Regions from separate parts of the Homo sapiens genome. Here region 1 is linked to region 2. The links come from fine-mapping of genetic effects on gene expression. A gene starts in region 2. The other region holds a variant in brackets. All regions are shown on one strand. Distances are from middle to middle.

Region 1 (5,356 bases), 930 kb after region 2:
CCCCGGGTGTGTGGAGCCCCCGGCTGGGGAGGTGTCGCATCCCCGGGTGTGTGGAGCCCCCGGCTGGGGAGGTGTCGGATCCCCGGGTGTGTGGAGCCCCCGGCTGGGGAGGTGTCGCATCCCCGGGTGTGTGGAGCCCCCGGCTGGGGAGGTGTCGCATCCCCGGGTGTGTGGAGCCCCCGGCTGGGGAGGTGTCGCATCCCCGGGTGTGTGGAGCCCCCGGCTGGGGAGGTGTCGCATCCCCGGGTGTGTGGAGCCCCCGGCTGAAGGGAGCCATGGCTCTGAGGCTGAGTGGTTGAGAATCAGGTGGAGCTACCCGTCTTCTAGACGACATCCTAGCACCACCTCCACCCGCATGAGTGGGGCCTGCTGGCGTGGACAGGGTGAAAGGACATTCTCTTGGCCCAGTTGCTTCTGTTGGTTGGCAGGCATGTGTCGGCTCTCCCTCACGTCAGCAGTGCCGGGTGGCCTGCGTACCACCGGGGCTGGGGAAGCATCTGAGCTCATCTTGGCTTCCGCTGTTGATACCTGTGGCTCATCTGTGTTTCTTTGAACGAGTTTTCCTGATCACTCGTAACCATGTGGAATGAGCTGAGTCAATGGAAGCCAGTCCACGCACACAGCAGGAGGGTCCTCTGGGCTTTTTTTTTTTTTTTGAGACGGAGTCTCGCTCTGTCGCCCAGGCTGGACTGCGGACTGCAGTGGCGCAATCTCGGCTCACTGCAAGCTCCGCTTCCCGGGTTCACGCCATTCTCCTGCCTCAGCCTCCCGAGTAGCTGGGACCACAGGCGCCCGCCACTGCGCCCGGCTAATTTTTTGTATTTTTTTTTTTTTAGTAGAGACGGGGTTTCACCTTGTTAGCCAGGATGGTCTCGATCTCCTGACCTCATGATCCACCCGCCTCGGCCTCCCAAAGTGCTGGGATTACAGGCGTGAGCCACCGCGCCCGGCCTCCTCTGGGCTTTGCTGGAGGCACTGCCTGGCTGTGGGCCACTGGCTCTGTGTAAGGGTGTCTGTTCCTTCCACAGGGGCAAGGAAGTCTGCAGACCCCAAGAGACCTTGTGATCATCCAGCTTGGGCTCACAAGAAAACCCACGTGCGGCGAGAAAGAGCCAGGGAAGGAAGCAGCTTTAGGAAGGGCTTCAGGCTGGACACGGATGACGGGCAGCTTCCCAGAGCTGCTCCAGAAAGGACAGACGCCAAGCCCACGGCTTTCCCGTGTCAGGTGCTCACGCAGCGTTGTGGGCGGCGGCCGGGCCGCAGAGAGCGCCGGAAGCAGCGCGCAGTAGAGCTGTCATTCATCTGCGGCACGTGCGGGAAGGCGCTCAGCTGCCACAGCCGGCTGCTCGCTCACCAGACGGTGCACACGGGAACCAAGGCCTTCGAGTGCCCCGAGTGCGGCCAGACCTTCCGGTGGGCTTCAAACCTGCAGCGCCACCAGAAGAACCACACGCGCGAGAAGCCCTTCTGCTGCGAGGCCTGCGGGCAGGCGTTCAGCCTGAAGGACCGCCTGGCTCAGCACCGCAAGGTCCACACCGAGCACAGGCCCTACTCGTGTGGCGACTGTGGGAAAGCCTTCAAGCAGAAGTCCAACCTTCTCAGACACCAGCTGGTGCACACCGGGGAGCGGCCGTTCTACTGCGCGGACTGCGGCAAAGCCTTCCGGACCAAGGAGAACCTCAGCCACCACCAGAGGGTCCACAGCGGGGAGAAGCCCTACACCTGTGCCGAGTGCGGCAAGTCCTTCCGGTGGCCCAAGGGCTTCAGCATCCACCGGAGGCTGCACCTGACGAAGAGGTTCTACGAGTGCGGCCACTGTGGGAAAGGCTTCCGTCACCTGGGGTTCTTCACGCGGCATCAGAGGACTCACAGGCACGGGGAGGTGTAGGGGCGCCCGAAGAGTGGGGTGCTGCGCCTCTGCGGGAGTACTGGGTCCTGAGGGAGAGCTGCAGTGAGAAGTTGCTCTTCAGCCTGGAAAATCAACCTGAATTCAGAGAAGCCTTCTTAGTCCTCAGAGCTCCCCAGTCCCCCGAGAAGTTTACTGGGAAAACTGCCAGGTGGGAGAAGCAGAGCCATGGGTACGCCGGAGATGGCGGGGGCTCTGGAGATGGCGGGGGCTGCGCCCCGGCGCCGGGCATCCTGGGGATGTGCTGAGAGTGTGCGCGACC[C/G]CGGAGCCACGTGCCAGGCCGGGCTCAGAGGCGGAGAAGCCTGCCTGGTGCCCACAGCCGTCTGGCTCAGGGACTCCACCCTGGCCCCGAGTCGCCGTCTGCTGGGCCTTTCCTTCCTGGCTCTGCACCCCATGCTGGCTGCCCGGTCTGGCTTCCCTTCTTGTCTCTGTCTTGGGCGAGGCAGCTGTGAGCATTGCACAGAGGCAAAGACCCTCCTGCAGCCTCTGCGCTGGGCCGTAGAAACAAGAGCCTTTGTAATACTGAACCTCATTCAAGGATTAGGAGTGGTGGTTAGGTCAGGGCCACCCCCAGTGCTGCAGGAACGGCCTCCACCCAGCTCTGTTGGTCAGAGCCTGGGTCATGCACCTGGAGTTGGGAGATCAAGTTGGGTCTCAGGGCAGTGAGGTGGCCATATCCACCACATCGCATTTCGTGGGGGAAGAGGTGACCTCTTTGTTTTAAACTTAAGGTGTCTGCTTATCCAGCCAGAAATAAAAATCTGCCAGTGGTGTTCCCAAGGGAAGACCCCCGTGGGAATGGGTCGGGACACTGCCGTGTTTCAGGTTAGCCAATTATTTTTGCTTTTGCCTGTTTTTCTTTAAGAATTGCAGCCAGGCCAGGCGTGGTGGCTCACGCCTGAAATCCCAGCTACTCGGGAGGCTGAGGCAGGAGAATCGTTTGAATCCGGGAGGTGGAGGTTGTGGTGAGCCAAGGTTGCGCCATTGCACTCCAGCCTGGGCAGTAAGAGTGAAACTCCGTCTCAAAAAAAAAATTCCAGCCAACAGATGCATATGTAATGTTGGAATCAGAAACGAGTTTACAAGAAATAGGGGGATGAGGAGAAGGTTGAACACACCGAGAGGAAGCCCTGAGCCAGATCCGGCTGGAGATGCCACCAGACGGCGACGTTTCTGTGGGAAGACGGGCACGCAGAAAGGCCGAGGGGGCTGTGTGTGACCCTGGTAGGAGCAAACCGAGTGCGAAGTCACTTTTGAGACAATCATGGAAATGTGGGCACGGGCCGTGAGTCGGGTGGGTAGGCCGTGAGTCGGGTGGATGGACTGAGTCGGGTGGGTGGGCCGTGAGTCGGGTGGATGGACTGAGTCGGGTGGGTGGGCCGTGAGTCGGGTGGATGGACTGAGTCGGGTGGGTGGGCCGTGAGTCGGGTGGATGGACTGAGTCGGGTGGGTGGGCCGTGAGTCGGGTGGATGGACTGAGTCGGGTGGGTGGGCCGTGAGTCGGGTGGATGGACTGAGTCGGGTGGGTGGGCCGTGAGTCGGGTGGATGGACTGAGTCGGGTGGGTGGGCCGTGAGTCGGGTGGATGGACTGAGTCGTGTGGGTGGCCGTGAGTCGGGTGGGTGGGCTGTGAGTCGGGTGGGTGGCCGTGAGTTGCGTGGTGGGCCGTGAGTTGCGTGGGTGGGCCGTGAGTCGGGTGGGTGGGCCGTGAGTCGGGTGGGGGTGCGGAATTGGCTGCTAGCGGTGATGGTGACACAGGGTTACGGAGGAATCCTCACTCAGATGCATTTGGACGTCTTTGTGGGGAAATGACGTGGCGCCTGGGATGTACTTTACGATTCTAATAAAGAGGAGAAAGACACAACAGTATTGGCTGAATGTTGACAGCTGTTGAAGCCGGGAGGTTGGTGTGCTTAAAAGTTCCCCAAATCTTTTATTTGCAGCATGAGTATGAGTTTCTTCGTGCTCACGGAAGATTGTAGAGAGCAGCTGTCGGTCATGGAGTCACAGGGCTGCCTTACCAGGACACCACCGGCAGCCCCACAGACAACACAGGTTTATTCTCTCCAGCTCTGCAGGCTGGAAGTCCGAGGTAGAGGTGCCAACAGGGTCCGTTTCCGGCGAGCGCCTCCTGGTTCAGAGGCATCCTCATGTCAGGAGGGGCTTTGGTGTCACCTTTTCCTTGTGAGGGCCCGGATCCCATGACCCCTATCACCCCATCGAAGCCAAATCACCTCCCAGAGACCTCCTCATACCATCACGTCGGGCCTAGGGCTTCCACATGGGAATTTCAGAGTGACCATTCAGCCCGTAGCAGAAGCTCCTCTGGGTCTGTCCTGGCCCACAGACCCTGTGTAGGAAAAGCACTTGCCCCTGCGGGGCAGGCCCTGGCAGAGCCCGGTGAGGCAGTGAGGGCCCTGCAGGATAAGTGGAAATCTCCCCAGGGGGGATATGGGGGTGCCTTTCTCTTACAGAGTCCAGGCTGGTAAAAGCGCATGTGTGTTTCGTGTCTGGTTTGTCCCCTGCCCAGCGGGCGCCGTTGGAAGGGCCTTCAGGTGCTTGAGCACAGGTGGGGACGGAGCAGCTGGTGTCTCGGCAGTAGATGCGGCGGATCATAAGGACTTGGGTTTTGAGCGCCCTGCAGGAAGCCACTGGCCGCGTCCAGGGTCACCTGTGCCTGGTCGTTAGTCCCTCACAATGCTGTCACTTTGTGACGCTCTTGTGCAGGATTAAATGTGAACAGCAGAGACGTGGGTGATGCGCTGCCTCGTCAGATGATGGTCAGTTGTCCAAGCGGGCTGCCTTGCTCTTGGTGGCCTCATCATCCAGGGCTCACACACTGGATGGTTGGGCCACAGTCGCGGTACCCCCCGGGCTGCAGGCTTTCCACCCTGCTTAGCAGGGCTCCAGGGCTCCGGGTAGAGCAGGGGGTCCCTCCCTTGGCACTTCCCCAGGGAGGAGCACGACCGTGCTCAGCTGCGGTCAGGCTGCTGCTCTTAGTTGTCTTTCCTTCTAACACTCAGGCTTCCCTTCCTGCCTCCTGGGTCGCTGAAGAAGGTCAGGTCCACAGAAAAGGCCTGGGGAGAGAATGGTGGTGAGGAGCCCATGGGGGTGTGAGGGGCCGGGAGGCTCTGCATCTTGCCCTGTTGGCCTCCTCACCACCCAGGCGGGGGTGGGGTGACAGAAGGGGCTCACAGCAGGTGTCCCGTAAGGAGCATCTTCCTTCCTGGGGCCAGCAGCCGTCACTCCCTGTGAGCCTGTAGAGCCGAGTTTTCTCTGCATTTATCTTGGGCAGAGAATGCATGAAGCTACTTCGCGGCCAGAATGGGTGCACAGCAGGGTCCGTTGACAGCCATGCCTGTGACCTAGCCTTCCACCCCTCTGTCTCCAGGGGACACTTGCCTGGCCTTTGTGTTAGCGCTCAGCACACATGTGTCCAGTGTAAAGTCCA
Region 2 (5,356 bases):
ACACCCAGGACTGGGTAAGCAGAGTCCCTAACACCTGCTGGCCCCAGGCCTGCTCTCTCTGCATAGGAGCCTGCAGGGTGACAAGGCCAATGGTGTGGCCATAAGGATGTGAGGGCTGCTCTGTCACAGGCACCAGGCGCAGGCCCTGGCTTCCTCTTGAGCTGTGCCCCAGGCAGCCCAGCCTCAGGACACAGGAGCCCACGCCTGCCCTATCCCATCTCTGCTGGGCTGCCCCCGCCTCACTGTTGCCAAAGGTGGAGAAGGGCTGGAGTCAGCCCCAGTCAGTGCCAGCTCCAAACCCGGGTTCCTGACAGCATGGCTCTGTATGCACCAGCACTGAGCTGACCTCAGACCTCAGTGCACACCAGGCCCCTGCCACGGGCCAGAGTCCTCTGGTCACCCCTGGGTCCTGTGGGCGGAATCCTCCATCGAGGCACCACGGAGAAGGTGACACAGATGGGAAGTTCCGGCCAGGGCAGGCCCCTGCCATCAGCTTTGGCCCCTCTACCAGCCCCGGAGAGCAAGCTGAGACCCCACCTTCGAGAAAGAAAGGTGGTGACAGCTGCCTCCAAGCCCCTCTCTGCCTTCCCACCAAAGTGGCTTGAAGCTCCCCTTGGCTGTCACATCCAACCTAGTGACAGCCAATAAGTCGGACACGCCTCTACTCAACACTGGCAGCCACAGGCCACAGCTGGCTGGGGTGGGGGGTAGCAGGGAAGATGGGCAGGAGGCTGGGGCACCAGAAGGAGGAGGTGAGGATATGGGTGCCCAAGGGTGCCATGGAGAGAACCAGCTCCAGCCTGTCCACTACACATGCCCACGCTCCCAAGGCCTCCCTGGCTTTGAACTTGCTGTTCCTCCTGCCCTCTGGGCAAAACAAGCCCTGGTGCAAATGCCACCCCCTCCAGGAAGGCCTCCTTGGTTTCCAGGGCAGAGTGAATGGTTCCAACTCTGACACACCCACCGTGAACTGCAGCATCCTGCCCCAGCTGGCATCAGTGTCCCTGCTCCAAGTGATTGTGCTCAGGGCTCCTTCCTCACCCCCACCCAAGCATGAGGGCCTCTGAGGCTGGGCAGGGCGTTCTACCCATTCCTCAGTGCTCCCTCCCCTGCACTTAATGAGGCCCAGGAGAGGCTTGCAGAATGAATGAATAAATGAATGAATGAATGAATGAATGAATGAATGAATTCCGGGGGTGGTTGCAGGTTGGGTTATCAAGAGAAATAATAATTCTGTCCCTTATCAGAGGGTTTTTGATTTTCAGCAATGAGATCCTGAGGGAAGCAGATAAAATGTTAGCTCCAAACCGGAAAGGCTGCTCGATGGTGACTGTGAGGACACAGGGACAGTGTTCAGACTGGCGCCTGACACACGGGAGGGAGGGGAGATCAGGGGGAGAAGAGGAGAGAGGAAGGGAGGGAGGAGGAGAGGAAGGAAGGAAGGGAAGGAGGGAGGAGGAATAGAGAGGAGGAGGGAGGTGGGGTGGGGGGGAGGGGGCAGGAATAATGGAGGGACAAACAGGATGGTGGGATGGGCTCTGGGTGTAGCTGCATGGCTGGGGGCAGGTCTCTCCCACTGGGGACCCCCGTGCTGGCTCTGAAGCAGGCTGGCCCCTCGGGGAGATTGTGCTGTCCATGTATGGCAGAGAGCAGACACCAAGCAATGACAGGGGATGCAGGTGCCCCTGAGAGAGGCTCGCCAGTCCTCCAACCGGAAGAGCAGTGAGGCAGCTTGGGGCTTGTTCCTCGAGGGGCAGGTGGGATTTCAGCAGAAGGAAGGGCTCCAGGAGCCCTGGTGCAGGGAAGGGCCTCTGGGTCAGAGGGGAGTCCGTGGGCACCGGGCACCCAGGCAGAGGCTCCTGTGATGTGCCATCCCTGGCCTGGATGGCCACCTGACTGCCTGTCCAGTCCTGATGGTTACAAAGGCCTTCTCCAGGTTAAGTCGAGTCCCCAGGCCCCTGTGTGTCTCGGACCTTCAGCACAGAGCTGGTCTGCCCTCATGACCCTGGGGCAGTCCTCAGGGTCAGCGGCTCAGCCTCTCATAGGCCAGGAGGGTGCCCCTGGGGATGGAGACTGGAGGGATGTAAGAGACACCTGAGCCAGCGCCAGGGACTCACCGACGCTCCACCCCCTGCTCATTCAGGGCCTGGGAGGCAGGGGCTGCCCAGGTCGTTCAACCCACAGCCAGGGACGCAGAGGCTTGGCCCCTGGGGGGCTGGGCTGCTTGGGCTTGGAGGTGCAGGCCACCGGCAGATCAAGGGGCCAGCTGGTTTTGTTGAGGCCTCAGGGTGGGGGTGGAGATGCCCTGCCAAGAGAAGACGTTCAGGCTCTGCTGGGGGATGCCAAGGCCAGGTGTGCACAGCTGTGCTTGAGGGGTCATCCCCTTGGAGCCCTCAGGAAGGCCCTGGGCCAAGGGATCTGAAGCTGGGGGGACAGGGCCAGCCGTAGCAGACGTGGGCACTGCGGGGGTCGAGGGTTGGGGGATGGGGAGGGGGTAAAATCACCCAGGAAAGCGGGGAGCAGAGGAGAGGACCCGGGAGCAGGAACTGGGGATGGGAGAGCAGAGGGACTTGGTTTTCCCAGGCAAGAGGGAAGAGGGAGTCCCGGGAGGGTGGCCCCAGGAGACAAACCAGCTGGGAGGCCAGGCCCAAGAGGGCTGGAGGGGGGCACATTCAGAGTGTGTGTGTGCACGTGCACGAAGGTGCGTGTGTGAGGGGTGTCGCGGTGGACTGGAGAGGTCTGGGGGCTGGGCAGAGGAAGAGGGGGGTTTGAGCCAAGGGCTGTGCATCCTGAGAAGTGTGGGGGCCAGTGTCGGGGGCTGGGGCTGAGCTGGATGGACCTGCAGGATCGCAGGAGGCTTTCGGAGGAAAGCTGCACCTGGTAGATGGTGGGGGGACAGGAATGGGTTCTCCCGAGGTGGGCAGTCACAGCCCAGGGCTGGAGGGACGGTGGTTGGGCTAGAGTGATGGGGGCCTTGAGCAGGAGGTGGCCCCAGCCCCTGGACTCACCCAGCTGCAGGCTCAGGACGGCGGCCAGCAGGAGCCCAGTGCCGAGCTGCATGTTCTCCTGGTGAGGTCGGGCTGTCGGCGCCCTGGCCGGCTGCCTTATACCTGCTGGCACCCCGCCCTGGCCCTCGCCCGCTCAGCAGACTCTGCGGGTCTGAGTCACCAGGCAGCCGGGCTCAGTCAAGGAGCCGGGCTGGGGTCCGGGCGGTAGGGGCCAACCTGGCCCCAAAGCTCGCTGGTTAGGCCTCTGAGCGGGCCGGTGTCATCTCATGAGCCATCTCTCCTTGTCCATAAAGTAGGGATAGCCCTGGCTGACAGGATTGAGGATCTGATAAAATGGCCTGGCACCAGGCAAGCAATGGCCACAGGCCACTCTCCCTCAGTGGCTGGGAAGGAAGGCCTGGCACCAGGCAGGTGACGGCCACAGGCCGGTCTCCCTCAGAGGCTGGGAAGGAAGGTCTGGTGGGAAGGAGGGTCTTGGGCACCAGCCACCAGCCCACCCCTTACGCCTCAAAATGCACATGAAGCTCAGGGCTGGGTGGAAGCCACAGGCCTTCATCTGTACTCCCACCCTAGAATGAGTTCCATGACAAGACCTCCTCCAAATAAGCCAGAGCTTTCCCATCCTGACCCCCGCAGGGCTGGGAGAACACAGAGGGAGCATGGTTGTGAGCCACCTCTCTGTCATCCGTACAGGGAATCATGGCCATTGTCACACTGTGACTAACGCCCCAGGATCTGTGCAGAGGAGTAGGGGGGACAGAAAGGCCCTTGGTACTAAAAGGGACCCCAAGGATAAGGTAAGAGCCCAGAAGGGACACCCTGGAGAGCGGGAGCCATCAGCTGTTCCTCCAAAGGCTGGCCAGGGGCTGGGGCCCCAAAGGGCCTGTCCGTAGCCAGTCAGCCATGCCAACCCGGGGACCCCTATGTGTCTCTCGGGCTGCCCACATGGCTTCTGTCTACCCCTCCGTTTCGGGGGCTCCTTATGGCTGGGAGGTGGGCCCAGGAGGAGGGAGATCCTGAAAGAGGGGCTGGCAGATCCAGGCCCTCCTTCCTGGGGCAGTCGAGAAGCTGGGGTCAGGAACCAGGTAGGCAGAGAGGTCAGAGATGGTGGGATGGGGTCCTGGGGGAGTTCCCGCCTCCCTTACCCCGCACACCCAGACTTCCTCAGGGGTTTGTATGCCCCTCAGGGGTGCTGGGTGGGGGGTGGCCTCTCTCCCACGGAACTGGGAGCAACTCTCAGCAAGCCCCAGGAGCCCTGCCTGTCTCCCTCCCTGTGCCTGGCTCCGAGGACAGGTCAGGCCTAGAGGCCAGAAAAGTCCAGGACCTGGACCGGGTAGGGTAGACAGGAAAGTGGCTGCATGCAGCCTGGAGTGCCAGCCCAGCCAGGCTGGAAAGGTGAGGCCCGAGCTCAGGCCGAGGCAGTGGGGCTGGAGAGAAGCGCAGACAATGCGAATCTGTTGATTTATTTACGGCTCGGTGAGACGACGCTGGACGCTGGTTAGGGTAAGGGTTAGGGCAAGCATTAGCAGCAGGGGCATGGCCCTGGGAAGCACCTGGACCCCAGAACATAAGACAGGAGGGAGAGATGCCATCCATTCAGCGGGCACTTATGCCCACGACCAGCTGAGCCAGACCAGCATTCCCATTTCACCACCCCTTACTCCTCAAGATGCAAATGAAGCTCAGGGCTGGGCGGAAGCTGGCAGGGCTGTCCACAGGGAGGACCCCCGTGTGTCTCTCGGGCTGCCCAGGTGGCTCTGTCCACCCTTCTGTCTGGGAGGCTCCTTAAGGCTGGGGAGGGCCCAGAGGGAAGGAGATCCTGAGGGGCTGGCAGATTCAGGCCCTCCCTGCGAGCTGAGGTTTGAAGAGGAGAGCAGACCACCCAGAGTAGTGGGAGAAAGCACCGGCAGAAAAGCTGGCATATCCACCGAGGGCCTCTCTGCTTCTTTTGACCTTTTTCAGAGTTTCAGAGTTATGAACCAAATCGCCTTCATGAGAGATGACGAATCAGATGCTACATAGTGGGGGAGGCGGCAGCTGGCCTGGCTCCCCCACTTCCCCAGGACCTCCGCCTGGAGGAAGCCTGCCCAGGGCCGCAGCCCTGCCCCCAAAGACCCCAGGACAGACCAGAGCTCCTGCTGGAGCCGGGTGTCCCCATGCTGACCTGGCCATGTCCCCAGGTCCCACCCCAGGGTCACTTCCTGTAGCTCCGACTTCTCTAGTGGCTGATTGCAGTTCCCAGAATGTATAACATCCCAGGGTGCCAGAGCCCACCCAAGCAGCCACTCCTGTCCAGTTCCCAGAATGTATAACATCCCAGGGTGCCAGAGCCCGCCCAAGCAGCCACT

What was found. PIP is the estimated chance that this variant, and not a neighbour inherited with it, causes the effect.
Region 1: its variant is the best candidate, but not a certain one, in a credible set for the expression of SLURP2 in sigmoid colon (GTEx, PIP 0.60).

Annotation. Positions count from the first base shown.
Region 1 is chr8:143,692,643-143,697,998 of GRCh38, forward strand. It overlaps ZNF707 (zinc finger protein 707), which reads left to right. Exons shown (of 6, transcript NM_001100598.2): 6 at 1,029-2,743. The coding sequence ends at 1,888. LINC02878 (long intergenic non-protein coding RNA 2878) reads left to right here and starts at 4,473. Exons shown (of 2, transcript NR_015445.1): 1 at 4,473-4,999; 2 at 5,297-5,356. The variant C/G (reference allele first, on the strand shown) is at 2,169.
Region 2 is chr8:142,766,747-142,772,102 of GRCh38, forward strand. It overlaps SLURP2 (secreted LY6/PLAUR domain containing 2), which reads right to left and starts at 3,082. Exons shown (of 3, transcript NM_177458.3): 1 at 3,009-3,082. The coding sequence starts at 3,060. All of the region lies in intron 3 of LYNX1-SLURP2 (LYNX1-SLURP2 readthrough), which reads right to left. It overlaps LYNX1 (Ly6/neurotoxin 1), which reads right to left. Exons shown (of 4, transcript NM_177477.4): 4 at 4,456-5,356.